Linked DNA regions of Homo sapiens: all the other regions are linked to region 3. The links come from fine-mapping of genetic effects on gene expression. A gene starts in region 3. Each other region holds a variant in brackets. All regions are shown on one strand. Distances are between the middles of the regions. Region 1 overlaps FHL2 (four and a half LIM domains 2). Region 2 has its middle 21 kb from the start of FHL2. Region 3 holds the start of FHL2 (four and a half LIM domains 2).

Region 1 (10,396 bases), 21 kb before region 3:
GCTAGACTGGCTCACGCATGAGAAAGGAGTGCCTCCTGACCTGGCATGATGGTCTTCTTGCATTCCTGGCACTTGGATGAGTACTCGTTGGAATAGCAGTCTGTACAGAGCAGCTGGTCCTCCTTGGCAGCAAAGGGCTTGTCCACCAGTGAGTTTCTGCACTGCGAGCAGTGGAAACAGGCTTCATGCCAGTGCCGGTCCTTGTAAGACAAGTCCTGTGGGGCCAGACCACACAAGACAGTCAGAGGCAGGACAGGAGGGCTTGGACCCACAGCATAGGGGCCCCTTGCGAATCTGCAGGGCAAACAAGGAAAGAAGTTGGGCCGAGGCACCCTGGCGCACCCACATTCATGCCCCAGGACCACCTAACTGCTGAAATCAATTAAGACTAGGCTGCTTTTCTCTTGCTGCATTTTAGAGCAACAGGTTAGACAGATGTGCATGTATGCACATGTCTGTGTGTGAGAGATGCTTCTAAAAAACAAAGGGATTTCCCTTATGTATTGCCTGCAAGAAAGAGAAACAGAAAACATGAACACCTATCAATTCGTCTCACACCACATCCGGTGACAGAGAAACAGACTGCAGGACATCCTTGGCTGAGGGAGCCCTGCCCAACTCAGATCACTGTGGTCACCGGCATGGCAGAGAGGCTCTGGGTGTCGGGATGTTCACAGGAGGCCCAAGGACTGTTTGGTGGGAGACGGTCAGGAGAGACTGTGTGTGTGGGTGCTACCTCTGTGGGTGGCCGTGAGCTGGGGGAGGAAGGGAATTTCAGGCAGAGAAAGAGCACAGACACAGAAGATCTGGGGACGGGGGGCATGTCAGATTGGAGGGACCACAGGCCAGGGGCGAGGTGGGAGGGCCCCCCGGCCTGGCTGGACTGGAAGATATGGCTGCCTTTTTGCCTTTTATGTCTGTGTAGAGATTCCATTGATCCTGAAGGCAGTGGACAGCTGCTTTTCAACAGGAGAGTGAAGTGCTCAGACTGGGGGACGGGTAAGGATGTGGGAGTGGAGGGGCGTGAGGGTGGGAGAAGTGAGACAAAAACTGAGCACACATGAGAGAGGCCCTGAGAAGACAGACGTGTGCTTTTGAGTAAAAGATGAGGGAGAGAAAGGAGCCCCGCAGAAAACTCGACTCCACACTTGGCTTCATCTTGCCTGAGGAATAAGAGAACCCTCCATATTTGCCTTTTAAAAATGACATACGGCATTTTTAAAGTGCCAACACAAAATTAAAATAACAATCTCTTTATGCCCAGCTTTATCTTAGAAAGGATATGTTTCTATTGCTGTCTTTGTGTTCCCAGCTCTGACCCCAAATCATCATCCATTTATACATGAGGCAGAAACAGAGTATTAGGCTCTGCACGGTTTCCTGGGCAGGCTTCCAGTTGGTAGGTATCCTGAACAGGGCACAGGAGGGCTGTTCACGCGATGGCCCTGAAGAAGAGCCTGCCCACGATGTCTCTGTTACTGAAACCGAAGTCGAAGCTGGAGTTATGCTGAATGTAGGATGTGAAGACATGGATCTTGGCCTTGATTAGAAAGTCCTAAAACACCAGCTAACTCGGAACCAAAACTAGAACAAACAGTTCTCTTTTGCTGAAGTATGTGTGTGTGTGTGTGTGTGTGTGTGCGCGTGCGTGTGCACATGTGTGCATGTATGTGTGTTTTCCCGGAACCTGGAACCAAACTAGTTATTTGATTTAGTGATCTCTTTGCGCATTTTGTTTTAGTTCAAGGAATTTTAAAAATGTGAACGCTGAGACACTTTGAAGACAGTCATGACTATGGCCTTTGTGAGGGGTGACCTCTTGTGCTATCCCTGTTGGAAGTTTGCTTCCTAGAACATCTGGGAATAGGATTATTGCTGACGCAAGACGATAAAGAATGAAGGAGAGGTCAGGAGTTCAAGACAAGCCTGGCCAACATGGCGAAACCCTATCTCCACTAAAAATACAAACATTAGCCGGGCGTGGTGGTGCATGCCTTTAGTCCCAGCTACTTGGGAAGCTGAGGCAGGAGAATCGCTTGAACCTGGGAGGTGGAGGTTGCACAGCCTTGGTGACAGAAGGAGACTCAGTCTCAAAACAAAAGGAATGAAGGTGAGAGGAGCATAGAGTGCTCTCAAAGCTGGACTAAATGCCCTTGTTTCTGCGGAATTCATTCTCACCTGAGCCCAGCACCTCTGGGTATTGTGGGTCCCCTGGGGTAGGCACTGCCTGTCAGGGGGACTCGGGGGCAGGTTGCTGAAATGCCCAAGCCCTCTTCATCCTTGAGAACCCAAACTGGGTATGCACTGGGAGTTGGGGGCAGAGGGCTAACCTGTCTTTTGTATTTTTAGCTTAAAGTATTTTCAGAAATCTGAGGGGAACATCACCTGTGCTTTATTGGTTATTTTGACAAGTGAAATAGAGGACAAACTGCTTTGATTTGAGTTGATGTCTACACATGTGAACTCATGAGAAACAGCAAAGCCCACAATCCACATGGACATCATCATCGTTCGGGAACAGGCATGGTCTCCATTCTTTCCATGCACACGCCCCGGCTTCAAAAAGACATCTGAAACACTAGTGATGACCATCATTACCCCATCTGTGAGCTCCAGGCACGGCACAGCCCTGCAAGGTAAATGTTATTACTGAAGGTCAGAGAAGTTCCGTAACTTGCCCAGTCACATACCTGGCACGGAGCTAAGCCAAGCTTCGAGCTCAAGTCCTCCTGATGCGAAAGTTATTTCCACTGAACCAGCCCAGGCAAAATCCTGGTCGGGTCTGTGTTACTCTTTGCTTTCAAAACAGATAGCCTTGAGGAGATGTGTGTGTGTGTTCATTTAAAAAAATCCAGAAACGACCAAACTCTGGCAACTTTCTAGAACATATTTTGTACCTAAATGAATGTGGCTCAGTATTGCCTTTGTTTAGACTTTGAATAAAATTGAACAAATCATTAGAAGCCCTATCCACCCAAAACAGTAATCTGCCTAATTTAAGAAGAGATGGAGATTTTATTCATGTTATCACTGTTAGAATGCTGATTGTGGAAGAAATGCATTAAGAATAAATTTTGTGTGGAAAACACCATGGCTGATATTAAAAGTAGAATTACCATATGATTCAGCAATTGTACTTTTGGATATATACCCAAAAGAATTAAAAGTAAGGTCT[C/G]GAAGATATATTTGTACATCCACGTTCATTGAAGAATTATTCACCATAGCCAAAAGGTGGGAGCAAGCCAGATGTCTATCAATAGGTGAAGGGGTAAACAAAATGTGGTCTGTGCATACAATGGAATTTTATTCAGCCTTAGAAAGGAAAGGAATTCTGACTCATGCTACAGCATGGATGAATCTTGAGGACATGACGTTAAGTGAAACGACAAATCGGTCACAAAAGGACAAATACTGCATGATCTCACACATGTGAGATACTTAGGGAAGTCACATTCATGGAGACAGAAAGTAGAAGAGTGGTTGCCAGGGGCTGGGATGAGAGGGGAATGGGAGTGAGAATGTGTTCTGTAACCCATTCATGCCTGAGGTTGCAATTTTTTGAATTTCTGCAATCAGACCTTGGCGATGATCTTGAGCAGTAAGATATACATAACTCCCACATGCTTAGCATTCCACTAATGGAATACTAGGCGTAAATGGGCTTGATGGGGGTAGTATTTCAGATTTGCAAGAAGCAAAAGCTCTGGGGATTGGTTGCACAGCCATCTGAATGCACTTACTACTGAACAGTACTCTTAACAGTGGTTAAGAAGGTAAGTGTGATGTTCTGTGTATTTTACCATAATTAAAAGAATAAAAAAGTAAGTTTTGGCCAGGCGAGGTGGCTCACGCCTGTAATCCCAGCACTTTGGGAGGCCGAGGCAGGCGGATCACCTGAGGTCATGAGTTCGAGACCAGCCTGGCCAACATGGTTAAACCCCATCTCTACTAAAAATACAAAAATTAGCCAGGCGTGGTGGTGCATGCCTGTAATCCCAGCTACTCAGGAGGCTGAGGCAGGAGAATCTTGAACCCGGGAGGTGGAGGGTGGAGGTTGCAGTGAGCCAAGATCGCACCATTGCACTCCAGCCTGGGCAACAAGAGTGAAACTGTCTCCAAAAGAAAAAAAAGTAAGTTTTGATTGTTATGTAGCAGGTAAAAAACACCGTTTCAGAAGTTACCTCTGTCCCCCTGTGCAGGCGAGCCACCTCATAGAGGACTGCTCGTTTGGGGAAAAGCTGCAGAATGTTTTCCATGACCCAAGAGTCACTGTCTGGCTGGGACAAGAGACCTGAAGGAGTAGGCGCCAGGGAGAGGGGAGGAGATCCTTGGCCTCTCTCTGGGAAGATAGTTGCTTTTTACATGGTGGCTGCCCTGCCCAGGGAGGAGGCATTACGCCCAGAGGGGTGGCAAGTTATCAGTGACAAGAGAGGGAAGAGAAATACAATTTCTAGAAAATTTGCCTTTTGGGACTGACCTTCAAGAAAAACTGAGAGAGAAATCTCCAAGGTCAACAGGAAAGCAAAGCCACTAGATGTCACCACAGCCAGTGCTCCGGTCATTAAGTCCCCAGATGGAGGAAAGAGCACATCAGCATGCCTGCACAGACATGGAAAAGCTGGCTAAGACATGCACATGGGTCCAAGGCACTGCAGAATTCCATTTTTCCTACAGTTAATATTTATGGCACAAAAATGCAATAGCTACAGTTTAAGACTGATTCATTGACACGTGACACTTGAAACTGTCCCTCTAAATGTGGATATTATCCACATGTTACTGGACTAAGCATCCATGCAAGACTTGGAGACCTTCTGCAGGCGCAGCCTGTCCCCCCACACCCTGCTCTATCGGATCCCACCTCGCAAGGTGAAGGCCGCATTCTCTCAGGACAACCTGGTCTGCTATATCCCCTGGGAACCATTTCGCCTTGGCTCCTGCCAGATGCTGCCCTTTCCCTTCAGGCTGGTGTAGAGTGGACACCTGAAAGTGCTCCCCATCCCATTCGGGTTGGGGCATGCAGAGATCCAGGTTTTGTCCTAAGAAACAAAAGACAGAGTGCCTTCCACAAAGTGCCTTTGCCTGCCCAGGGCTGCGTTATCTCGGCATCATTCCCTGGGGCCATCTGCACTCAGCTCCGCAACGTTTCTCTCAGCCTACCTTTATGACTGCACACACAAGCATTCCTGAGTGAATATGCGTGCAGCAGTTCCTAATTCTAAAACCTTCTAAAGGAAACTCTTTTCCCTGAAGATAAATATTAACCTATGCTCACGTTCTTAAGTTTTGTGGTGTACAATAACTAAAAATACTCTGTAAACAAGCTTGCATCATTGTTGTTGGTGGGTCCTCAGTGGGAACAGAACTGGCCCACCTCCCTGCTGCAGTACAGGGTGGTGGGCTTCCTGGGCCAGAAATGCCTGAATGCCTGCTGCATGCAAGCAGGATGGGAGAGCATGAGGTCCCACAGTCCACATCTCTTGTATCACTGTGGGTCAAGCGCCCGCCCCTCTGGGATCCCAGGAGCACGTGATTAAATTGCTTGGTTATTTCACCCTAGGGGTTCAATTCAAGGGCCCAAATGCCAGATTGACTAAACTTAAATCCTGGCTCTGCCCTATGCCACGTACATCACCATTGGGAAGTAATTGAACCTCTCTTGCCAGATTTCTGACCTGTACAGCAGGAATAATGGACCCACTACTGGCTGTAACAAGCATGTATAACAGTTGCTGGTATGTATTACAATTGCTCAATGGATGTTAGTATAAGTCATTATTTAGACCACAGCTAATAATGAGAAGAGTTGCCTCAATGTGTCACTTGCTGAACCTACATTTCCTTATGAAGACAGTCCTATCAATGAGAATATCTGCCACCTTAAAGCTCCACGTTGGTAACTCTACCACTCTACTTTTGTAGGTGCTTTTTCATTTTAAATCTAAAATTCTTTTTCTTAATTCTTCATACCTATTTTGAGCCATACGATAACTCTATGAAATAAAGTTTTATTCTTATAGATGAGCAGATTCAATGTAACGACACCAAAAAGTGTTTTCTCCAACATTCCCACTGCCCTTCCACCTGAAATGATCCGACAAAACTAAACTGTGCTCCTGTTTTTTACCTGGCACGTCAGCCCCTTTGCAGATTGACCCCAACTCGCTTTCCAACCTGACCCTCTGCTCTGGTCCCCTCTTCCTCATCTCCATGCCTTTGACCATACTCTGTCCCTGGCCTTTGAATGCCCTTTCCCTTCTCCCCAAAAGGCCAAATCCCACTTGGCTGCAAGTCCCAGCTGAAATCTCATCTGTTCTGCAAAGCTTCCTTGGCCAGGGCAATGCTGGCTTCAGGGAAGCCATGTGCCACGCCGGCGACCTAGTTTGTATGTCTCCTTCCAAATCCTATTTGGAAACTCGTAGGTAACTAATTATGCCACGGGGTTTCCCTGTCACTCTCTGAATGGGGCGCCCAGTTTGTGTTGTCTTTAGAAGTCTGAGTCAAGTTAATAAATTCATGTCACTGCTTCCTCCTGGACTCGCTTCTTAAGAAAGTTCACAATAAGGAGGAAGTGAGGAAAGACTTTATGATAAGAGGAAGGTAACTCAATACTGCCAGGTTTGATTGTTTTAGAGATCTTGGCCAACATGGTATTCTCTGAGTCTCAGCAGGAGGGAAGATTTTAGCCACACGATTCCCTAGAGCTTAGAGGTAGACTAGAAAATGCCACCAAAAGGCCTAGAAGCGAGATTGTCATTGATTAGACCCGGGTGCCTGAGCCTGTGCTTCCTATCACACTCTGAATCTTTACCTGTGAAGACCTAGTGCCAAGTGACCCTTTTCTTTTCTTCTATCTATCTGTTCTGTCTGTCTATCTATCATCTATCTGTTTAGAGACAGGGGTCTTGCTATATTGCCCAGGCTGGTCTCAAACTCTTGGCCTTAAGTGATCCTCCTGCCTCAGCCTCCCAAAGTGCTGGAATTACAGGCATGAGCCACCACGCCCGGCTCAAGTGACTCTTTCCAAACAGAAAAGCTCCAAACCGATTTTTAGTTTCAGTTATTAGCACCATGCCGGTAGCTTAATTTTGCTATTTCATTAGTACTCCATTGTGAACAGCAAACATGAGTGTAACAGAGATAGCACTTCGATGCTGAGAGGAACAGGGTAAGAAATATGGACACCTTGACAGACTTGCTCAAGAACTTTAAGATGGAAATATCCGGTTTTAAATTCCTCTAGAGAGAAATTGAAAACAAAAAGAAAGAAAAAAAAAGTCTTTTATACTTCCCAGAAAAAAATACCAAGGCTAATCTTGTGCTCACAGAAATGTCATACATTGCAGTAAAATGTTGATAAACATGTACGATTAGGCCCACACACTTCCTTTCTGGTTTTGTATTTTTCCATTGCAGAAACATTCCTAACATGGGCTGTGCCTGTTGCTTGGCTCCGAATGTGTCCTTTTTGAGACTTTAGCTGAGCTTTAGTGGCAAGTGGCCTGGAGGGAGCCCTGGACCCCTCAGTTAATGGAAGGTGGCTCTGGGTGGCAGGGTCACCCAGACTGAAACGTCTGGCTCTCATCCTCCCTCCTTCGCACCCCATTCCACCAGGGCTGGCACCAACCATTCTTCAGATCCATACGATTTCACTTCAGACATGGATTCTCATGTCATTCATGCTCAGCGTTATGAAAAGATATTTTCTGCTTGAGATCATCAGGTTTCCAACTGTACATTCTTTCAAATCCTTACAAATAAAGATGCAGAAAAATGGACAACAGCAGAAATGACAGCACTGTGTTGGCATGTCACAGGTGCTCCCTAGACGTTAACTCACTCAATTACCCCGACAGTCCCGTGAGCTAGGAACCCCAGTGTATAGACATGGAAACGGAGGCTTATAGGTGGCAGGACTTGTCCCCTTCGCGCAGCTTGTCAAAGGTGGAGCCAGGGAGATTTGGTTCCGGGGTCCAGCCTCGGTGCATGCGAGGTCACTGCTGAGCGCTGTGCACCTCTGCTGCTATGTCTTGTGGCTGAACTTTTGGTTTTATGCACTGACAGGCCAAGTTCGTGCACTGACAGGCCCTTCTCATGAAATCCATCCAGACAGCTTTGCTTCTGATCCTAGGACCCTGCTTGATTAAATTCCCTTCACAGACAGATTTTTGTCTTTTAGGAGGAAATCCAAATAAATACGCGTTTTCAGTGCTCGTTACAAACTCTGTGGACAAATTCTACACGGAAGAAGATCCAAGAAGGTAATTTGCTCATTGAGAACTTAAAAACCACCCCAACAAATAAAAAAGCACCAGGTTGGCAGGCTGGACCCTGAGAATGTGACTGGAGTAGGTGCTCTTCCCAGAAAAGGGTCCAGAAAGACCAGCGAGGGAGGCCTGTGTTACACCGAGGACAGAAGGGTGGGTTTTTCAAACCTGACCTTACACCTTTCACTAGGCTTGGTCAGAAACCTTCCAAAATATACTAGGGGCATCTAGATTTAACCTGTATGTGTGAAAACCTTCGTCTCCTATTTCAGAGCCCTGCCAGGTTGCTTTCTGCCAAAATATCACTGAACATTTCTGTCCATTACCAAACATTAACTGAGACTTTTACAGCCAATTTGATCATCACTTCAATGTTTCCTATTAGCTACAAAAGCTGGAAAGAGAGTTTGTGAAACAACTTGAGCCTCAATTCTGCAATGTAATCATCACCATCTAAAGGGGCCCATGAGAAGAGTAGGGGCCTCTGACTGAAGGTCACTTGATTGAGGCCAGGTGGTCACCATCTCTTACTCATAAGGACTGACCACATCTGGCCCGAGAGTCACATAGACAGGGTCCTGCCCGAGGCTGCAGGTAGCAGGTGGCATCACATGCTAGGTGAGGACCCTCCGGGTCTGGGCTCAAATTGTACCTCGGATACTTCCTAATCCCTTTAACCCTTGGCAAGATCCTCATCCTCTCTAGGCCTCAGCGGCTACTCCATAAAATGGAATGAAAAAAGTTCCTACCTATAGGGTGTTAGGAGAAATTTAGATCATGCAGTTTAGGCATTTACAAGTGCCTGGAACAAGTCATCAGGCAATACACAGTGGTTTCAAAGACTACCACTAGAAACTAAACCCTGAATGCTAGTTTCTGATCTGCAGATCTTTTGTTCTTGTTTATTATTTTTTTTTTCTCTTTGTAGCACCCTCCAAGCACATGGGTGGGTATGGTGGCCAGTCCAATTTCATGGCATTGCTTGCAGACCCATGGAACATTCAAAGTCTAGGTTACGTGTGTCGCCCAGGGCTTAAAATCACCAATTTGTTAAATGCACAGTATTAGCAGCTGTCTCTGGAGTTATTGGCCAGCCTATTTTTTATTTTTATTTTTTTAAGATGGAGTCTTGCTCTGTCACCCAGGCTGGAGTACAGTGGCGCAATCTTGGCTCACTGCAACCTCTACCTTCCAGGTTCAAATGATTCTCCTGCCTCAGCCTCCCAAGTAGCTGGGATTACAGGTGCACGCCACCACACCCAGCTTATTTTTGTATTTTTAGTAGAGACGGGGTTTCGCCATGTTGGCCAGGCTGGTCTCCAGCTCCTGGCCTCAAGTGTTCCACCTGCCTCGGCCTCCCAAAGTGCTGGAATTACAGGCGTGGGCCACTGTGCCCAGCCCTATTTTTTCTTTAGTTGGTTGAATTTTTGAAGCCCAGAACGTAGGCAGATCCCCCAAAAACTCTGTAATCAGTCTACGAAAATATTTTGTTAATGCTAACAGGTATCCAAGAAAAGGTTCAGGAAGCATGTAATGTCAGAGGATCATAAAATTGTATTAGCATTGTCTATTCTCCACTATTACACTGGCCATACAAATCAATAATCTTTACCCTTTGAGATCACAGCATTTTCCCAGAGTAACTTAATAGAAATAAAGATTACAATTCAGTGGCTACATAGAGAGGATGTTCAAACTATATAACAGGCTCTGAAGTCTTGCCTGTCTCATTTAAGTAGGTCAGGACTCTCAAAATTAGCCTAATTCCCATAGGCATGCCAACATTTAAAACTCACACACATGAACATGTCCTTTAGAGGGAAGTAGCTGAGGCCTGTGGTGGCTGTGCTATTTTAAGAGAAGAGATTGGCCACCAGACCTAAGAGCACAGTTCCTCTATCAGGTATCTCCCCGCCTGCCAGGATTGTGGGCTTTACTTCCAGAAAAAAACAGGAACATTTTTTTCTATCATTGCTTCCACTACAAACCCAACTACCCGATTATTTTTGAAAGTCAAGAAAAGCACGCCTAAAGCATCAAAAGCCCCAAATGCCAAGGTCTCGCTTCAACTCAATGTCTCTTTTTGTTCCAAAATGTACAAAATCATACAGTGTAACCCCACGTATCTC
Region 2 (10,734 bases), 21 kb after region 3:
CACCCACCTTGGCCTCTCAAAGTGCTAAGATTACAAGTGTGAGCCACTGTGCCTGGCCAGATTTAAAGGATTTTAGGAGCTGTACATCAGGAAACTGAAAGAAGACCAAATATCTGTTTCACAATATCACCAGCTTCTTTACAATTCCTCAGTAACCTATGACTTACAATTTTCTCTAATACAACTGTAGTCTAAGTAATGTTGGCTTACATATCTTTTGATCCTTAAAGTTATATTAGTATATGTTTGTTGTACACAAACGCAGATGTATACAGATACTAGAACATTCTTTAAGGTAGCATAAGTTGGGAAACAATCTAAATGTTTATAGGTAGGGGCAGAGTCAAGTCATTCGTCCATACAATGGAGCAAGCGCTACACCGCTATAAATAGTGAGGCAAAATCTCACTCTCTGGGACAATCTCCAAGACAGGGTGTTAAGTGAAAGAGGAAAGTGCAAGTCATTGTGTGGAGTATCCTACCATTTGTAAGAAAAGGATGTGTGGCTATTATACATGTTTGGAATATCTGGAAGGATGCACAAGGAGTTGGCAATAGTAGTTGCTTCTGGGGAGAACTAAGGAAGAGAATGGAGGGAGGGGGAAAATTACTTTTAATTATTCTCTTTTTGTTGCTTCTGAATTTTGCACCGTGTGCATTGATTACCTGTTAATAACTAAAATAATATAAAGTAAATAAATAATCAGCATATCTTACCACAGCAAAGGTGGTTTAAATAATGTCTTTAAACAATTAAATTCAATAACACTTTTAAACAGAGATTGAAGGTGGCTTCACAATGGGCAGGGAAATAATATGTGACACAGTTTGCAAGAACGAAAACCGTGTCTGAAAATCACATTAAAATGTGTTGGGAAACAGCCTGAAGAAAAACTGTTCCTAAAATAGAACCAACAATAAATAAATAAACAAATGAAGTAAGCAATGCAAATTTCTTAAAAGCACCGGGATTCCTGTGTTTTTAAGTTATTTCTTTGTGGCCCTAACCCCAAGTTAAGTACCAGGGACTCCTTGGAACCGAATGGTACCCCATGGTGGGAAAATGGCCCATATGGTACAATTATCTAGATGATTTCAGCAAAAAATACGTCTTTGACTCAGTGTTTTATACAATAGGAATAGATGGGGAATATTAACAAGAATTGAAACTGTGTGTGGAACCATATTCAATCAATTTCAAGTTTAATTAAACCAGCTACTCTTAACCCCTGTTCTTAAAGAGTGCCTCAAAGAGTACAGCCCTATCTACTCTTTAATATTATTAAGAATCCCAAAGGGCTTTTGTTTATGTAGGTTATATCTATTATATTTACTGCATTAGAAAATAAAACTTAGAAGCTAAAAAATTAATTCATTTAAAATTAACATTAAATCCGTAACAGGTAACATAGAATGTTTTCATGAAAAATAATTACACTTTCCAAAACAAAACAACTAGTAAGAAGAGTGGTGTGGTTTTGAATTTTTGCAAATCTCTTTAACATTGAGCTTAATAGAAGACAGCTGGAAAGCTCAATGCTCATGTCTGCTTCTGCATTCGATCTGTGGAGTATGTGGTTTTGGTTGAAATTTATGAAGGAAATGCAACCTTATACAGAAATGTCGTTGGAAAAGAGAAATATCTTGATAGCCATCTCAGATCATCATCTCTCTCTATAAATGGATAGATTCTACACCAAAATTTGAAAAAGAGATGTTTCTTAACTACTGCTTAAAGATTGCAATGTGGAATCTGAAATCACATCAATACTTTTCATATTCTATTACATTAAAGCCCATTTGGTCTATCTTAAGCTTTAAACAGATCTTTAACCTACACATTGTTTTGTTAGATTTAGAAAATATTGCTTCTATAGATCTTCCAAATGCTGATACATTTCATTATACAATATTAACAAATTACAGTAATTGATATCACCATCCATCTAATCAGGAAAGTTTTTACACACTGGGAAGCTGCCACACTCACAGTTTCCCAAAATGCTAATTTTCACCTGAAAACTCAAATTTTATCCTTGAAAACAAAAACAAATACTGTCAGTTGTTTCCCTTAGAATGACAGGCTACTCTGCATTTTTGGGAAAATATCTACTGCCAAAATCTAAGTATGCTTTGTCTGTCAGTTGTTCTTCCAAGTGAAAATGGAAGAAACATCTTGTTGAACTCACGACTTGGGCCACTGCACAACTTCCTTTCCTCAAGACAGTCACAGTTCTTTGATATGAGCAGAAGTGCTTCATGCATCTTCCCTTTCATCACTCTGAATACTAAAAAGATGTGTGTTGCGGCCGGGCGCGGTGGCTCACGCCGGTAATCCCAGCACTTTGGGAGGCCAAGGTGGGTGGATCAAGAGGTCAGGAGACTGAGACCATCCTGGCTAACACGGTGAAACCCCATCTCTACTAAAAATACAAAAATTAGCTGGGCATGGTGGCACGTGCCTGTAATCCCAGCTACTCGGGAGGCTGAGGCAGGAGAATCGCTTGAACCCAGGAGGCAGAGGTTGCAGTGAGCCAAGATCTTGCCACTGAACTCCAGCCTGGCAACAGAGCTAGACTCCATCTCAAAAAAGAAAAAAAAAATGTGTTGCTGGGCACGGTGGCTCACGCCTGTAATCCCAGCAATTCGGGAGACTGAGGCGGGCAGATTGTCTGAGCTCAGAGTTCGCGATCAGCCTGGGCAACATGGTGAAACTCAGTCTCTACTAAAATACAGAAAATTAGCCAGGTGTGGCAGCGTGTGCCTGTAGTCCCAGCTACTCAGGAGGCTGAGGCAGAAGAACTGCTTGAACCTGGGAGGTGGAGGTTGCAGTGAGTCAAGATTGTGTCACTGCACTCCAGCCTGGGCAATACAGCGAGACTCCATCTCCAAAAAAAAAAAAAAAAAAAAGAAAGAAAGAATGAAAAAAAGAGGATGTGTGTGTTTAAGGGTCCAGATTTAATAACATTAATAATTGTTACTGTTGTTTTGTCAAGGTCATTCTGGAATGCAGCTGGGCTTTTCTTTTTCCCCCTACTGCTTGGTGATGAAGAATATCATGATTACTAGTTTGGTTTGGAGCCACCACCTTGATTCCTGCTAAGGCACTAGGAGTCTTCCCACCACAACTTTTGTACCAGCATAAATGTCAACACAGTGAAAAGATGAGTCATATCTTAATAGTATCAAAAAAATAGCTTTAACCACAAAAACTCCTTGAAAAGGACTCAGGGGTATAGGGACCACACATTGAGAACCACAGAATTAAAACACTTTAGGCTGGGGAAGTCATTATATTTTGTAATAGGACTGGAGGTAGTGTATTTTCCACCATGTGGGTAAATGGTGGAGATTCAGACACAGTCTGTATAGCTAGTGTTTCATATCTGTCCTTATTTTTGACTCTGCGAATGGCCACCCAAGGCTGCCAAGGGCTCATCATTGAGATAGTGCTGGGCTTGTTAAGCTGGATATCCTAACTCCTGGGCCTTCTGGTTTGAAAGATGTGGGGACCAGGCAGATAAGCACCAGGGCAAGCCACCTGGGCCACAGGGAAACACTCTCCCCAACAGAAACCACTTATTTTCCTCCTATTGAAAATAAGCCTCAGAGACCCAGGTGGTCAAACAACATCAACAAAAAAAAAACAAAAAACCCATTTTAATCTCATAAGTAGGTCAGAGTTGCACATTTCATGAGAACTGGGTCCAAAAGACCAGGTACCACTAATTATCCAGATATTTCAGTTGAGCTGATTTAGTGAGCAGTTTCCGTTCTGCACTTTACATTTTTATGAATACAACTGTGGATAAAGTATGCGCAGACATAGAGTATTCTATTTCTTCTTCAAGGATATATCTCTCTATAAAGTGTATTTATTCATACAGTAGCGCCCTCCTCCCGCTCCCCTTATCTGCAGTTTCTCTTTCCACGCTTTCAGTTACTCATGGTCCACTGTGGGGCTGAAAATAGATTAAGTACAGTACAGTACAATATTTTGACAGAGAGAGGCCACATTCACATACCTTTTATTACAGCATATTGTTATAATTGTTCTATTTTATTATTATTTATTGTTAATCTCTTACGGTGACTAGTTTATAAGTTAAAATTTATCATATGTATGTATACACAGGAAAAAACATAGTATATGCAGGGTTTGGGACTATCCACAGTTTCAGGCATGCACTGCAAGTCTTGGAACTTATCCCCACCAGATAAGGGGAGACTGGTGTGTAATATTTGTATACAAGTATTTTCTTTAGTATATGTCTGTCCACAAAGTAGGCTTTCCTATACCCATACATCAGAAAGACAGACATGTAGATCTATAGAAGGCCACTGGAGAATCAAAATATGCCAAACCAAAATATGTCACACCAGAATATGCCACTTTGGCATAAGGATTTTTAAAAAATTTTTTTATTTTCATAGGTTTTTCGGAACTGGTGGTGTTTGGTTACGTAAGTAAGTTCTTTAGTGGTGATTTGTGAAATTTGGGTGCACCCGTCACCCAAGCAGTAGACACTGCACCCAATTTGTAGTCTTTTATCCCTCACCCCCTTCCCACCCTTTCTCCAAGAGTCCCCAAAGTCTATTGCATCATTTGTATAAGGATTGTTTTGAGGTGAAGGCAATTAAGAAGCAGCAAATGCAGAAAAAGGAGGACATAAATTTCCCTTTGTGAAGGTGTTTCTCCTCCCATCTTCCATACCAAGAGGAGACCAACTCTTGTCACTGGAAACAGAAAGTCAGCACCAAGACAGGTCTGCACAAACAAACCTCACCAATATCACCCTTATCTTTCATTAGGTTCCCCTATATGTGTACTCTCCCAGTCCTAGAAGCCCAGGTTGCTTTTTGCTTGTTTTGTTACTTCTCTGCAAATTTATCACCCTTTGTTAAAATGGTATATAAACTCCTGGGTCTAACAGCCTCTTTGGTTCTTCACTTCTTTTCTATGAATGTCCCTTCACATAAAAATTAAAATAATAACATAAAATAAGATTTGTCTGTCTTTTCTCCTGATGGTCTCACTTTTGCCAGTGTAATTAACAGACCCCAGCTAAGGAACAGAAGAAGGTTGAGGAAAAGTTTTATTTTCCTCCCCTATACTACATAGTCCAGTATGACTGAACATGCATTGTCATTAAGGGAAAGTGTTCAGTTGAGGGTGGGAGGGGATGCATTGGCCAAGGTCTCAAGAGGAGAAGTGACTGCTTGGATTCAGTTCTTCATTTGCTCAAAGATAAGCCACCCAATGCCCCATTGTGTTAGTCTGCCAGGGCTGTCATCACAAAGTACCACACACTGGATGGCTTAAACAACAGAAATTTATTGTCTCCAAGTTTTGGAAGCTGGAAGTCCAAGATCAAGGTGTCAGCAGGGTTGGTCCCTTCTGAGGGCTGTGAGGGAGCATTTGCTCCATGCCTCTCCCTAGCTGCTGGTGGTTTGCTGGCAATCTTTGGCATCCCTTGGCTTGTAGACTCACTTCCCTGATCTCTGTCTTCACGTGGACATAGTATCTCCCTGTGTGTGCGTCTGCCCAAATGTCCCCCTAATATCCCCTTTTACAAGGGCACCACTCATATTGGATTAGGGATACCCTAATGACCTCCTCTTAACTAATTACTCGGTAACAACCCCATTTCCGAATAAGGCCATAGAGTTATTAGGAGTTACGGCTTCAGCATATCAATTTGGGGGAGAGACACTCAACCCATAACACCTTCACTAATAATAGTAGCAAATTATTCATAACTAATAGTAACATGAGGAAGAATCTAACAGATGTGGGGCAGAGAGAGGGATGGCGAGGAGGAACTAGTGCAGATATCCCTAACCTTTTTGGCACCAGGGACCCATTTTGTGGAAGACAATTTTTCCATGAATTGGGAGGTGGGGGGCAGAGGGTTTCAGGATGAAACTGTTCCAACTCAGATAATCAGGCATTAGATTCTCACAAGGGGCATGCAACCTAGATCCCTCACATGTGCAGCTCACATTAGGGTTCATGCTCCTGTAAGTATCTAACGCCTCCACTGATCTGACAGGAGGTGGAGCTCAGTGGGGAATGCTTCTCGCCTGCTGCTCACCTCCTGCTGTGTGGCTGGGTTCCTAACAGGCCATGAACCAAGTACCGGTCTATGGCCTGGGGACTGGGGACCCCTGAACTAGTGGGACAAGTTTTAGGAGAAAACGGGGCTCCATCCACACCATGAGAATGGGGCACTGGGGTTGTACAGAGCCAGTGGTGGCCCAGTGTCCCTGTCCTATACTGGATCCAGCTCATGAGACAGATGCAGTTTATGGTCAGACTCCATGTGGTCCAGTGCTCCCTTGATAAAGAAGGTAATCCAATGGGAAGAAAGTGAACTGTCCCT[G/A]GTCCCATCGTCACTGGGTTCTCTCTGGCTTGTAAGGACAGCCAGTTTCACATGGAATGTCTGGGACAGAGTCCACACAAATTTGATTTGGTGTCAGTGATCTGGGGCTTTGTGGCAATGTTCTGCCCTGCTTGAGGTTACAGGCCAAAGTTCAAAGACCAGCAACCCAAAAGCCTGGTCACTGGAGTGTAGATGCTGGGTGGAGTATTCACAAGCACGCTACAGAAGGCCCAATGCCTGAAGTTAAGACCATAAGCTCAACTCTCCTGATCAAAAAGACAAACACTATTCTCTTAACACAAATGCTGTCTCTAGGACAAATGCTATCAGGATGATGAAAATCAATTTTCTGCCCATTTTTTGTTGTTGTTGTTGTTGTGACAGATCTCTGGCAACAAAATGCTCCAGATGAAAGAAATCAAAATTAAATACTGTCTGCAGTTTAACACTGCCACCAAATTCCATCTTTAGGTTGATTTTTGTGTCCTCTTTATCAAAAGGCTGCTTGATTGAGAAAGTGTCTAGCTCAGTTATACTATGGCTTGCATTGACCAAGAGAGGTATCCCAGCCTCATGACACTGATATCGTAACTGTCAAATGGAGGCACTTCTGTGATGCAGAGGGCACAGTTCCATGCATGAGCTTGCAATGCAGTCTCTGCCATCAGGGACTCAACATTCTAGGATTTAGTTTTCCAGATCTGTTTCTTTGATTTAATGGAAAAGATGTTTCTATTACCCACCATGCTAGTTTTATATTAAGACCAGAGTTCACTGGTACATCTTTTTGTTCCCATCAGCTTTTTGCCCCTCCTGGGGTCCTGTTGCGTGCATTGGCAGCGTAGCTCAGAGGAGTTGCCCTAGGAAAGAATCACGGTGGAGGGCAGTCCTTCCCCACATACATGCAAGTCCTCCAACACCATGCATGTCCAGCAGCAATCTTGGCCGCGTTGTGGACCAGAAAGGAAAAGCCATAGTAAGAAACAGCTGTTTGGCTTGAAGATGTGTTGGTTTGCTTATGTTTGTAACTTGTTTGCTTTTATGCTTTGGGTTTTCAAGATGCTGGTGTTATTGGTGAGAATGGCAAGAACTCCCATGCCTTGTGAACCACAACCAGCTCCTGGCATTCTCAAGTTGGTGGCAAGATGCATATGGAGGTGCATGTCATGTGCATGGGAATTGCAGGGGCCCTATGTGGATGGATCCTTGGTGCTTCTCAGATAAGACAAAACTACTTAGGAAGCAAAACTGTGATGGGAATAGTGGATCACATATAAGAGAAATATTTTTTTTATTTATAGTTTCCTCTTGGTTTAATTTACTTTTTCATTATAGGATTATAGCTCTAGATAAGACATGATCTACAAACTAAACCACAAGCCACTTAGAGACAACAGGACCATGAAAATCAATTTTCCGCTAATTTGTTGTTGTTGTTATTGTTGTGACAGATGTGATTCATCTCTGGCAAAAAAAAAAAAAAAAAAATGCTCCAGGTGAGAGAAATCAAAATTAAATACTGTCTGGAGTTTAATACTGCCACGAGATTGCATCTTTAGGTTGATTTTTTTGTCCTGTTTATTTTATCAATTGATTACTTGATTGAGAAAAGGATTGTCTGTATCAGTTATACTACAGGTTGCATTGTACAAGATACCAAAATCATTGCAGAACCACTGTTTTTCGTTCTGACAGTTTTACTCAATAGACACTGTACCTCTCAGATAACTAGGAAACGAGAGTAAAGTCTTCCGTCAATAATGTCAGAACACTAATTTACTCTCCCACTTCTTTCCTTTTCCTGCAGCTCAGACGGCATGGGAACCCATTACAACTCCCTCATAGTGGAAAGCAAGCTGAGGATGCTTGCATTGGGCCTGACTCAGGAAGTGGTATCAAGCGTCAGGTCCCTGGGGCAGCTCTTCCATTCCTCTCTCTGATGTTTGCCCCCAGAGGAATGAAGATTCTTCTAGATTTTAGTACAGAATGGAGGCTGTCAGTGATACCCATATGTTAGAAAAAGCCAACAGAGCAATAATGTCTCCAAAAAATGAAACATGAAGCTTTTAGAATGATTGGAAATTACAGTTCGATTTTGAATTATTTGCAAGCCACTTGAAGATTTCATAAACCTATTGCATCAACTCTAACAATAGTCCTTTACTGGTATAATTATCTGCATTTTGCAGGAGTAGAGATTGAGGTACAAACAGAGGACACATTTTGCTTGCCTGAGGCTTCGATGAAACTTCTGACAATATCAGGGGACATATTTATACTTCTAACAGTATTTTTAGCTATTTGATAGACAACAGTTGCTTCTCTTTTCAAAGATCACAGCCATTGAGGAATCCACCATATTTCTGTAGCAGGAAGAATGTTTATCTCTGTGTCTTGTCTTTCTGGTTAAAGGTATTTACTTCCATCACACTACCTGACTTCAAACTATATTACAAGGCTACAGTAACAAAAACAGCATGGTACTGGTACCAAAACAGATATATAGACCAGTGGAACATAACAGAGGCCTCAGAAACAACACCACACATCTACAACCATCTGATCTTTGACAAACCTGACAAACAACAGAAATAGGGAAAGGATTCCCAATTATATAAATGGTGTTGGGAAAACTGGCTAGCCATATGCAGAAAGCTGAAACTGGATCCCTTCCTTACACCTTGTACAAAAATTGACTCAAGATGGGTTAAAGACTTAAACATAAGACCTGAAACCATAAAAACCCTAGAAGAAAACCTAGGCAATACCATTCAGGACATAGGCATGGGCAAAGACTTCATGACTAAAACACCAAAAGCAATGGCAACAAAAGCCCAAATAGACAAATGGGATCTAATTAAACTAAAGAGCTTCTGAACAGTAAAATCAACTATCATCAGAGTTGAACAGGCAACCTACAGAATGGGAGAAAATTTTTGCAATCTAAGCCATCTGACAAAGGGCTAATATCCAGAATCTACAAGAACTTAAACAAATTTACAAGAAAAAACAAACAACCCCATCAAAAAGTGGGCAAAGGATATGAACAGACGCTTCTCAAAAGAAGACATTTATGCAGCCAACAGACACATGAAAAAATGCTCATCATCACTGGCCATCAGAGAAACGCAAATCAAAACCACAACGAGATACCATCTCATGCCAGTTAGAATGCTGATCATTAAAAAGTCAGGAAACAACAGATGCTGGAGAGGATGTGGAGAAATAGGAGCACTTTTACATTGTTGGTGGGAGTGTAAATTAGTTCAACCATTGTGGAAGACAGTGTGGCTATTCCTCAAGGATCTAGAACTAGAATTACCATTTCACCCAGCAATCCCATTACTGGGTATATACCCAAAGGATTATAAATCATTCTGCTATAAAGATACATGCACACATATGTTTATTGTGGCACTGTTCACAATAGCAAAGACTTGGAACCAACCCAAATGCCCATCAATGATAGACTGGGTAAAGAAAAAGTGGCACATATACACCATGGAATACTATGCAGCCATAAAAAGGATAAGTTCATGTCCTTTGCAGGGAAATGGATGAAGCTGGAACATTCTCAGCAAGCTAACACAGGAACAGAAAACCAAACACCACATGTTCTCACTCATAAGTGGGAGTTGAACAATGAGAACACATGGACACACGGAGGGGAACATCACACACCAGGACCTGTCAGGGAGTGGGGGCCTGGGAGAGGGATAGCATTAGGAGAAATACCTAATGTAGATGATGGATTGATGGTTGCAGCAAACCACCGTGGCACATGTGTACCTATGTAACAAACCTGCACATTCCGTACATGTACCCCAGAACTTAAAGTATATATATATTGTAGGGAAAAGAAAGAGAGATCAGACTGTCACTGTGTCTATGTAGAAAGGGAAGACATAAGAGACTCCATTTTGAAAAAGACCTGTACTTTAAACAATTGCTTTGCTGAGATGTTGTTAATTTGTAGCTTTGCCCCAGCCACTTTGCCTCAGCCACTTTGACCCAACTTGGAGCTCACAAAAACATGTGTTGTATAAAATCAAGGTTTTAAGGGACCTAGGGCTGTGCAGGACGTGCCTTGTTAACAAAATATTTACAAGCAGTATACTTGGTAAAGGTCATTGCCATTCTCTAGTCTCAATAAACCAGGGGCACAATGCACTGCAGAAAGCCGCAGGGAACTCTGCCCTTGAAAGCAGGGTATTGTCCAAGGTTTCTCCCCATGTGATAGTCTGAAATATGGCCTTGTGGGATGAGAAAGACCTGACTGTCCCCCAGCCCAACACCCGTAAAGGGTCTGTGCTGAGGTGGATTAGTAAAAGAGGAAAGCCTCTTGCAGTTG
Region 3 (10,734 bases):
TTTATTTTCCTACGGATGGGAGTATCTACACACAAAAACCGCTCACCCCCAACACTCTTCATTTGTCTAGCTAAACGGGTTGTTTTAAACAGAAATTCTGATAAAACGGAGAGGGCCATCATGTCAAGGAAAGTTGCTGTTTTATAAACTAGAATAATGGATCAAGCCTTGGAGTCCCTAAAGAGAGAGGATCTCTTGAGCCCAAGAGTTCGAGGCTGCAGTGAGCTGTAGTGCTGCCACTATACTCCAGCCTGGACCACAGTGTAAGACCCGGTCTCTAAAAAAAAAAAAAAATTTATATCAGTTGGATATGGTGATGTGTGCCTACAGTCCTAGCTACCTGGGAGACTGAGGCAGGAGGACTGCTTGAGCCCAGGGGTTTGAGGCTTTAGTGAGCTATGATGGCACCTGTGAAAAGCTACTGCACTCCAGCCTGAGCAACAGAATGAGACCCTGGGAAAAAAAAAAGAAAAGAAGGAAAGAAAGAAAGAAAGAGAAAAAAGAAAGAAAGAAAAAAAGTATCTAGCATCCACTTGAAATCTATTTTTAAATTGTTGGATTTTAAACAATCTTAGTTTGTAAGGTATAAAATTGACTATGCTTACCACTGTATAATATATTTACAGATTAATTTAATAAGCCTTTACTAAATGCATGTACAGACAGGTGTCAGAGGTGTATTATAGTTTACATAAACTGGTAACTTCCAACTTAAAAAAAATAAATAAACATCTTCATCTCTGGTGGTTCTGCATGAGGCAATGTTTGAATAAGGTAAACTGCTGTCTTCTGAATTATCTTTTGAATATTGAATACTAAAAATAAAGGGAAAACAATAAATATCAAATTTCTGATCTGAAGTCCATGACTACAAGAGGAGTTACACTTGTTTTGATGTCGTTCAGCCTTTTGAACCCAGCCGACAAGAATGTGTTGAGTAACCACTGTTTTCCATGTGCTACGTGAGGCACTGGGAAGCTGAGATAAAACACACAGTCTATGAAGGAGTTCCAGTCTAGTTCTAGCTCCAAATAATTTAAATCACCTTTAAGATCCCATCTTGTCATTTAATCTCAAAACACATCAATTGCAGCCATGCAGGACAACCATAGCTGCACACGCTAGAATGGCGGGTGGCCTCGGGTCCGTCAATCACACCAGTGTGGGGACCAAGGGAGACTCCATCCTGCATGCTATGGCTCTACCATGCCTTCCCTGAGTGAGTTACGAACACTTCTACACCTACAAAACGAAAACCACCCACTCTTCTTCATGGCAGGGGTCTCCTCTCACCTCCCAAGTGCGGCTCACTGTTCACTCTCCCAGCTATCTGAGGTGCCTATGACCCCCACCCCCATGCTGGCCTTTCTCTTGGCATCCAGCAGCTTCCATGAATGACTGGCCACCTCCTTCTCACTGCAGTCCTGCCACTCTGTGGGGTTTCTCTGGCGCACTGCAACAGGACTCTGTCCCGAGAGGCTTGCACAGTTCCTTCTGCTTCCTTCATTGACTGCCTGCTTCTTAGTGACTCCAAAAGTTGTATTAACCCAAGCAGACAGGTCTATTTCCTTGTTGACTGACAAGCTCCATATTTACATACTGCAAGGACATTCTGGCATTAATTCTGTTCACCCATGAAAACAGGGCAGCTGCTTCTGCCACAGACATCCCACATCTCACTCAAGACCATATGACGGGAGGATCTTGAAGCCGCAGACAGAATCAGGCTAGTAAAGGCGTGGGCCACCGAAGGCTGAGGATGAGTGTGAAGTCTAAGTTCACACCAGGCAAGACACCACCCACGAGCACTGGGATGGACCTGGGAGACCAGACGCTGCTCCAGACCCCTCGTGACATCCCCATGCAGAGAGCATGTTTTACAGCAAGAGGAAAGCCAAGACTCCCAGGAGCAAAGTAGTGATCAAATCTTAAAAAAAGGGAGAATGACAGTTGGTGGGGAGACTTTTTAAATAGATGTTACCAGAGAGCTGTAATAGTCAGGGTTTTCTAGAAAAATAGAACCAACAAGAGATGTACATAGAGAGATTTATCGCAATGATTTAGCTCACACAATTACGAAGGTGAAAAAGTCCCAAGACCTGCAGTCAGTAGGCTGGAGACCCAGGAGAGCCGATGGTGCAAATTGCAGTCTGAAAAGAGGAGACTCTATAGACCCAAGAAGAGCCGATGTTTCAGTGTGAGTCCAAAGGCGGAAAGGACCAATGTCCCAGCTCAAGCAGTCCGGCAGGGGGGCTTCCCTCTTACTCAGTTTTTTTGTTCTATTCAGGCCTTCAACTGTTTGGACAAGGCCCACTCACATTATGGAGAGCAGCCTGCTTTACTCAGTCTACCCATTCATATGTCAATCTCATCCAAAAACACCCTCCCAGACACACCCAGAACATATGACTGAATGTTTGGGCACCGCATGGCCCAGTCAAGTTGACACATGAAAGTAACCATCACAGTAGCTAAAACTGAAATCCACAATTTAGGATAACAGAGGAAATTCACTTGACTCACCCCAAAGTCAAAATGCCAGCCTAGTCTCCAGGAAGACACAGTTCTCAGCCACTAGAGAAAGCACACGTGTTTTGTTTCAGATGGTCATCTTGAGGAAGCGAACTCAGTATAATGCAACTTGAGATGGACACTTAATAAATGTGGCTTTGATCAAATTCTCATAATAAAACCGCACAGAAGAACCCAATGTCTAATGTTTCCATTCACCCAAGCTCAAGGAACTTTGTACCTCAGGGCATCTGAGTCAGAGAGCCGCTTAGCGACTCAGGCCCGGTGCTGACAAAGGAGGCTGCCTGAGTCACTGAGGCTGAGTAACTGGCCCTCGGCACAGGACAGGAGTAAACTACTCCTGATATCTAGTCTGTTTTTTTTTTTTTTTTTTTTTGGCAATATTCTATTGGGCGTTTTTGACTGCAATTTAAATATCTTTCAGTACTGGAAATGGTTTAACACGCAATCTTGGGTCAAAGTATGCATCATAAGGCCTCATAGAAATATTCAAATGTTAAAAAAAATAAATAAATATTCAAATGTTCCTCCCGTGGTGCGTTTAGTGGTTAGAACTCAGGTTCTCCAGTTAAGCTGCCTGGGGTCAGATCTCAGGGCTACCATTTACAGCCCGGGAAACCCTGAGTTAAAGTTACTTTGATCTCTGTTTTCAGTGTCTTTACCTGTAAAAATGAGGCTATCAAATATGTATACACTGTCTATGATGTCCAGGCTTCTTAACAACCCTAACAAAAAGACAACATCATTGTCCCTGTTTCCCAGTGGAGAAAACCGAGACACTACGAGATTAAGTGACTTGGCCCAGGCTGCACAGGTTGAGGGACCCGGATGTAAATTTAGGCAGCCTACATGCAGTCCCCGGCATCCCCTAGCCTACTGCATCTGCCTGTGGCTATTTGTGAGACGGTGAGCTAAAATGAGACAGAACCTATGTGCCCAGAACAGTTTCTGGTCTGTAGTAAGCCCATCATTAGCCTTCATCGACATGTTATGGTGTAAACGCATTTTAAACCATGGCAGGCTAATAAACACCGTGGAAACACAATTCTGTGTATTAACTGATGATCTTCTAAACTGGGGGGTGATCTAAATCCAGTAACACTTGACAAAATTTTATATAAATGCACAATGAAATGTTCTTTGAGTTTGGTTTTATTAAAGTTTAATTGATAGACTAGGAATTCCTGTACTTCTAAGACTTGATGCAAATGGTTTTTGTTTTTTTGTTTTTTGTTTTTTTTTGTCTAAAACATCTTCAGGATAGTGCAAAACCTCTTTTCTTTAATATATTATTATAAAACACTCATTAGTAGAGTCAGCACCAAAAATGTGAGATGTATTGGGAGTTGTGTTTTGAAGACAGTTCTCCTGATTCTAAACCCAAATTGTGATTTATTACCTTCCAAAATATGTGGAAGGGAGTGCGGGCCTTAAGTTCAGTGATGTCTAAGTACACTGCTGCTTGCAAGCCAGCTACACATTTCAGCTAACCGGATTAGCCTACTTCCAGTTAAAACCCGACTGAGGATATGAAAATAAATATGACTGATTCATTTAAAATCAGAAAAACACTCAATATTTTCTTCCCTCTATTTCTGGTATGCTAAGATATCACACGAGTGCGACTTAAGAAAAACTTAGAATCTTTTCATTTAAAATAAGCCATTTTTGTTTTAACCGAATGGTTCAGTTATTAAATGTCTACCTGAGTCAAGGAGCGAGGTCACACTGCAAACTCCACTTATTTCTACTAAAGGGAAATGGCCCGGACTCCCCCGCGCAGACCACCGTGCCAGGACAGCCCGCTCGGGAGTCGGGCCTGGAAGCAGGCGGACAGCGTCACCTCCCCGCAGCCGCCGGCTGGGACCCGCGGCCAGCCTTTACCCAGGCTCGCCCGGTCCCTGCCCGCATGGCGGTGCCCCACCTGGTGAGGACGCGGGCTGCAGTCCTCCCTCTGGGGATGAGTCGGTGGGCTCCTCTGAGCTCCAGCGCCCCCAGGGTCTAGACCCCTCCCATTGCTCCGCTCCCCTCTCCCCGTGGTCTCCCCACCCCCAACCCCCAGGGTTCGGCTCTCCTCTCCCGGGTCTACCCCACAGCTCAACTCCTTTCTCCCGGCTTCTCCCCGCACGGTTCGGGTCCCCTCTCCCAGTGGTCTTCCCGGACCCACAGCTCTGCTCTCCTCTCACCAGTCTCCCCAACTCCGGCTCTGCTCCCCTCTCCTTGGGTCTCGCACCGGATTCGGCCCCCACTTCCGAGCCCTGGTGGCTAAGCCCCTCGGCCTCCCTCCGGGGCGCAGGGGGTTGGAGGTACTCACGGCACCGCAGCGGGCCGGGGACTCCCGGACGGGGCTGGAGGGCGCGGGCGGCTGGTGGCTGCGGCTCCGCTGCCGGCCGAGTGGAGCGCTGCGCAGCTCCCGCCCTCGAGAAACCCCGCCGTGTCATTTGACCATATAAGGAGATGCACGCCTCGGCTCGCTGGCACCGGGCGTGGGGCGCGGGGGGCGGGCGCCCCCAGGCCTCGCGGTTGCCGTGCCCCCGCCCCGGGCTGCGGCGGTCCCGGCCCGTACCCTTTGTTTGCCAGGGCTCCTTTCTTCGTGCCCTCCGGGTCTTGGGAGCACAGTAGTTATCGGGAGCGTCGCCTCCGGCGTGGGCTCTCGGGCGCGAGTTTCGGACGAGGCCTGGGCGCGGTGGCAGGGGTCTGCCCACGCCGGGATCTCTGCCTGGTCCCAGGAGCGGGAGACTGGAGAAGCCCCAGGACGTGCCGGGGGAGGCGGAGGGAGGAGGGGGTCACTTCTCAGGAGGCATGTGCCTGGGATATATTTGCAAGGTGGACGTTTTTCCTTCTTACCCTGCAGATGCTTCTTTACGAAATGAACACCACAGATGACCATAAAGAATCCTTCGTTCCACTACGGAGGGGACTAAAGGAAGGTCCTATCCCCACCTCTCCCTCTCGGGGCCAGAAGACTAGTTAGACATCTTGGATTCCCCTCCAGGGCGGGAAAACCAAAGTGAGCTGGGAGCGTGCCTCCCACATTCCAAGCCCGGGCCCTCTGCGTGACGCTGACGCTGGGTAGGGACAGATGGCACTGTTCAGCATTGTCGCAGGGAGAGCACAGGTTGAGCCCATCCCTGGGAGAGGGTGCGTCGTGATGGAAACATTTGCTCCTGAGCAGGTAACCGGTCCACTTGCAGAAACCGGTGGACGATGAGTAGGTGGACCACAAAGGCGTCCTCGGCACTTTGGGGGCAGGTGTATTATTTTTAACATTCGGGGCAGCTCATAGGAATACATCCTCCAGAGAAGGCGGGAAGAACTCCGTGATTGCTTTCTTTTAATTGATACTCTCCGTCTGGTAGGCCTCATGGGTCTCCATCATGGAATCACAGAACTTGAGAATAAAGGGGCTTCATCACCTTAGCTTCCACTCGGTGAGCACTAGCTCTACCTGGTATCTCATTTGATCCACACTCCTTTAAGGTAAAGATTTTTACCAGATTTACGGTGAGGAAAGTTCAGCTCAGATTTGCTCCAGGCCACGTGAACGGTAACTGTGCCAGCTGAGATTTGAACTGGGATGTGGTAGATGGCAAAGCCATGTAAGTATATTACGGGATCAGAAATGCCTCTCATCCCTCAGTCACTCAGGTGACTCCAGAGGACTGAGACTTGCCATAAGCCCAGCCAGAACTAGATGTGCGGAATACAGCCCTCCCCCGACCCCACCCCACTGTGTCCCTGAAACAGGACGCTTTCCTGAAGAACCTGAGTTAAGGCCACCCTACCTGAATTTCCACTAAGTGTCAAGACAGGCTAGTATTTTGAAATTCAGAGCAAAGTTTGTGTAGAAAAGGCTCCCAGCCCCTGACAGCTACCTAGATGTGTTGTTGATATCGTTACAAATTAGGAAATGGTCTCCTAGTTCTCAAATGGTGAGTCTTAAGCTTCAGTTTGTAAAAACAAGCCCTAAAATGATGAAACATTAATTCTGCATTTATCTTCTTTCTGATTCCTTTTGTCTTATATTTTAATTTTTTTTTTTTTTTTAGCTTTCTGACTTACGGGTGTAATCCATTTAGCTTTGCTTTTTTACTGATAGAGTTATTTAGTTCTGTTATTTTTCTTCTAATAACTGCTTTAGCTGTGTCACATAGGTTCAGCTATGTTGTGTTTTATTATTAAGAAATTCTGCAATTTAATTTTGTGTTTAATTTTTGACCTAATGGGTAGCAGAACATTTTAAATGACCCTGTGGTCATTCGATAGGGTCAGTAAAATCCGGACTCTGGAAACAAACATACCCAGTTTCTACAACAACGATGCACAAAGAAAAACAAGAGAGATGGAGACAGAACCAAGAGATTAAAAAAAGACTTAGCCAACTGCCATGTATGGATCTTATTGGATTCTTTTTTTTTTTTTTTTTTGGATCTTATTGGATTCTAATCAAAGAATAAACTAGTAGAAAATCAATTTTTATGAGACAACCTTGGAAAATATGACACTGACAGGATATTTTCTAGTATTAATGAACAATTTATGTTAGGGGTGATAATGTGATTACACACACACATATATTTTTCTTTTCTTAAGTCCTTGCTTTTCAAGAACAGTGCCAAAATATTTCCTAGTGAAATAACATTATGCCTGGAGTTGTTTCAAAATAATTTGGGGTGGGGAAATGGATAGGGCCTATATATATACGAAATACTATCAGCCATGGATTGTGGATAATCGCTGAAGCTTGATGATGGATATGCAGCAGTTCATCTTACTAGTCTGTCTCCTTTTGTAATGCTTGAAAAATTCCATAATGAAAACATTTTTAAATTACAGATGAACATACCATTTTCTCTTTACCCAGCATTTCCCTTTATAGGAAATTATCTTGTAGATATACTTGCTCCTGTGTAAAACGATAGACACACAAGAGTAGTCATTGTAGAATTGTTTGTAATAGAAAAATACTGGGCCATGTTATGTGTTCGTCAACAAGGGCTTAGTTAAATACAGTATGGTGCATTTTAGAATTATTTACATATGCGGCTGTTAAAATGAACGAGGTAACTATATTTACTGATTTGGCATGATCTCCAAGATAAATCAACTGAGAAAAATAAAAGTAGAGAACACTTTGTAGGTAGAAACCAACCATTTGTGTTCATGAGCAAAGAAAGGACGGGGGAAGACAATGTATATTTATAAGCGGTTGCTTCTGGGGAGATCTGAGTGGCTAGGGGTCATGGGGTGGAAAGGAGATTAATTTTTACTGTACACATTTTTATTTCTTGTAAATTTTGAGCTATGTTAATGTACTCATTCAAAAACTAAATATATATATACACGAATATATACATATATACGTATATATACACGAATATATATATACGTATATATACGTATGTATGTACATATACATGTATATATGTGTATATATACGTGTATATATACACGTATATATACATATATACATATACACATATACACACATATACACATGTATGTATATGTATATATGTATCTGTATGTATATATGTATATATATGTGTATATATGTATATATATGTGTGTATATATATATGTGTGTGTGTGTATATATATATGTATTTGAGATGGAGTCTTGCTCTGTTGCCCATGCTGGAGTACAGTGGCACTGTCTTGGCTCACTGAAACCTCTGCCTCCCAGGTGCAAGCGATTCTCCTGCCTCAGCCTCCTGAGTAGCTGGGACTACAGGCATGTGCCACCATACCCGGCTAATTTTTTATAATTTTAGTAGACACGAGGTTTCATCATGTTAGCCAGGATGGTCTTGATCTCCTGATCTTGTGATCCACCCACTTGGCCTCCCAAAGTGCTGAAATTACAGGCGTGGGCGACCATGCCTGGCCCAAAAACTAAATATATTTTAAAAATAAAAGCAACAGACTCCTTTAAGGAAAATAGGAAACAAATTTGTTAAACTGATATTAATAGTAAGTCAAAGGAGGATGGCAAGAAATTGAGGAGGGGAATGCAATTTCTGGGTTTAATGACATATGCTTTCATGAGCAATTCCATCGAAGGACAAAGTATTAAAAACAAATTTTCATGAGACAATCTAAGAAAATATGTTTTGAAAAGTTCCATCCATCTTGTACATCATTATATTCCTAGGACCTAATTAATTATAGAGCATGGCACATAGTATGTGCTTAATAAATATGTGTATTGAATAAGTGACAGATCACAGAATTGTTTGTGACAAGTCTTTCACTATAGAAAGCGTAATGCTGTCTATGGCAGCATAGCTTGATCTTTGAAGTCAAGCCAGGATTTGAATCTCTGTTCTATCTATGACTACTATGATCTCCAGTAACTACAAAACTTCCCTAACCCTCAGTTTGCTAGTTTGTAAAATGGGCTAATAACATATAGTCTGTGAAATTGTGGCGAAGGTCTTTTGAGATGCACATAAACCACTTAGAACTATTAACACATTACTTGGCATGAAGTAGGCCCTTTGTAAAGTCCTCTGTTTTATTCAATGGCAAAGGGGAAATTAATCCAGAATAAGAAGGAAATGGACTGAACTCCCACCAGAAGAAGAATTAAGGTTCAGATCCTGTTCAGATCCTGTTTCTTCTTGAGAGAAAACCTCTCTGCTATGGATAAAAGGCTAGTTCATGGAAGAAAATAAAAACAAAAAGTACTATTTCCTGGGGAAAGGATCAACGGTGACTGTGATCAGTTATTCAAGTTCTTCTTTTGTTTATTCCAATTATCCTGACATTCCTTCTTGAGACAACACTGCCCATAACGTTTTCCCGTCTCTCCTGTAGGTGGGCTTCAGGGAGAGGCACAGCTAGGAAGGGAGGAAAGAGAGGAAAAGACTTCCTGCGGCTAGCAGGTCTCAAAGCCTTGTCCCAGAGTGCAGCAGGATCCCCTGCAAACCTGTTAGAAGTGCACATTCTCAGGCCAGCTCCTGCTTTAACACGCCCTCCAGGTGATTCTGATGACTAAAGGTGATTTGAAGTAAAATAAATACCACTTAGGGCTTCCAACTCTGGACTCGGTAATTTACCAGAAACCTACGAAATGTCAGTTTAGGGCGTGGGGGAGGGACAGGGAAATAGAGATAGACTAAACATAGACTAGACTCAGGAACTCTAAAATCCAGTTGGAAGTATTACTTCCTCTGTCAGTTACTTCACTCAGGGAAGCAGGAGGTAGAAGTTTGAGCCAGGAGGTAGAAGTTTCAGCCAGTGGGTCTGAGCTGTACAAATGCTGAAATTTCATTCTCTGGGAGAGGCCAAAGAAAGGCAGGGCTTCTAGGCGTGTGCTCGCAACTGCCACCCTGTGGTGGGGTCGTGGGGGGGAGGCTGGTGGGCTAGACCCATCTGTGCAGGGGCCAACAGTAGCCTCCTACCCGGATGGGGGCTACCCCAGGGGGATTAGGATGAGCTCACCATTACCAGGTAGAAAGTGAACACAGGAAAACATGAGCTGGAGGTCAGACCGCCCTATGTTCGTTACCCTAACTGACCACTGCCATCAAGATTGTTAAGCATTTTGTCACCGTTAAAGGATTTCACACAAGCTGTTCCTCCCACTCAAACCTTGGCCAGGAAACTGGTGGATGATTTGCCCTTGATTCAGAGGCAATCATTCTTAATTGCCTCACATGGTTGGAAGGTGAGTAAGTGTCTAAGATCATAAATGCTGGCGGGAAGGGGTCAGGAGTGATCAAACCAGCACCCCTCCTGGCAGTGGGGTCAGGAGGCAAGTCCCTGCATGCCTTCCCATGACACAGTACCAGATCCCAGGGTGGTGGCACAGAAAGCTGGATTCGCTTTTTCTGGAAACACTATTTGCCCGGATCCAGCAGGGAAGTCTATGAAAGATGACTCTACGGGCAGGGTATGCACCTGCCTGTGCCCGTGAGCTGGGTGCAGTTGTGACGGGAGACCCAAGGGCCTCCAGCAAACAGGAGGAACTTGATCTGGTTACAGGAACGATCTTGCAGGATCCAAACTTTGTTTCTCTGCCTGTCAGACTTTCAGGAAAAGCTCAGCTTTCCACAAAGGGCAAGCTCTTTTCCTTTTCTTCTCCCTTCTGCCATGCTCTGGTTAGGAGGGAAAATGATTGGCTCTTTCTTGAGATACACAATTTCCATATCCCATTTCTTCCCTCTCTCCTTTTTCACAAACTATTTGTTGGATATA

What was found. PIP is the estimated chance that this variant, and not a neighbour inherited with it, causes the effect. A credible set is the group of variants that fine-mapping cannot tell apart.
Region 1: its variant is the best candidate, but not a certain one, in a credible set for the expression of FHL2 in whole blood (TOPMed, PIP 0.74).
Region 2: its variant is the best candidate, but not a certain one, in a credible set for the expression of FHL2 in whole blood (INTERVAL, PIP 0.51).

Annotation. Positions count from the first base shown.
Region 1 is chr2:105,373,519-105,383,914 of GRCh38, forward strand. It overlaps FHL2 (four and a half LIM domains 2), which reads right to left. Exons shown (of 7, transcript NM_001318895.3): 4 at 41-215. It also overlaps a transcript of C2orf49 not described here. Among named protein-coding and RNA genes, the nearest start is that of FHL2, 20 kb to the right of the region's middle. RefSeq lists an enhancer at 377-656. The variant C/G (reference allele first, on the strand shown) is at 3,176.
Region 2 is chr2:105,414,795-105,425,528 of GRCh38, forward strand. It overlaps a transcript of FHL2 not described here. Among named protein-coding and RNA genes, the nearest start is that of FHL2, 21 kb to the left of the region's middle. The variant G/A (reference allele first, on the strand shown) is at 6,384.
Region 3 is chr2:105,394,124-105,404,857 of GRCh38, forward strand. FHL2 (four and a half LIM domains 2) reads right to left here and starts at 4,928. Exons shown (of 7, transcript NM_001318895.3): 1 at 4,719-4,928; 2 at 2,524-2,574. RefSeq lists silencers at 4,662-4,881, 4,902-5,031 and an enhancer at 4,709-5,531.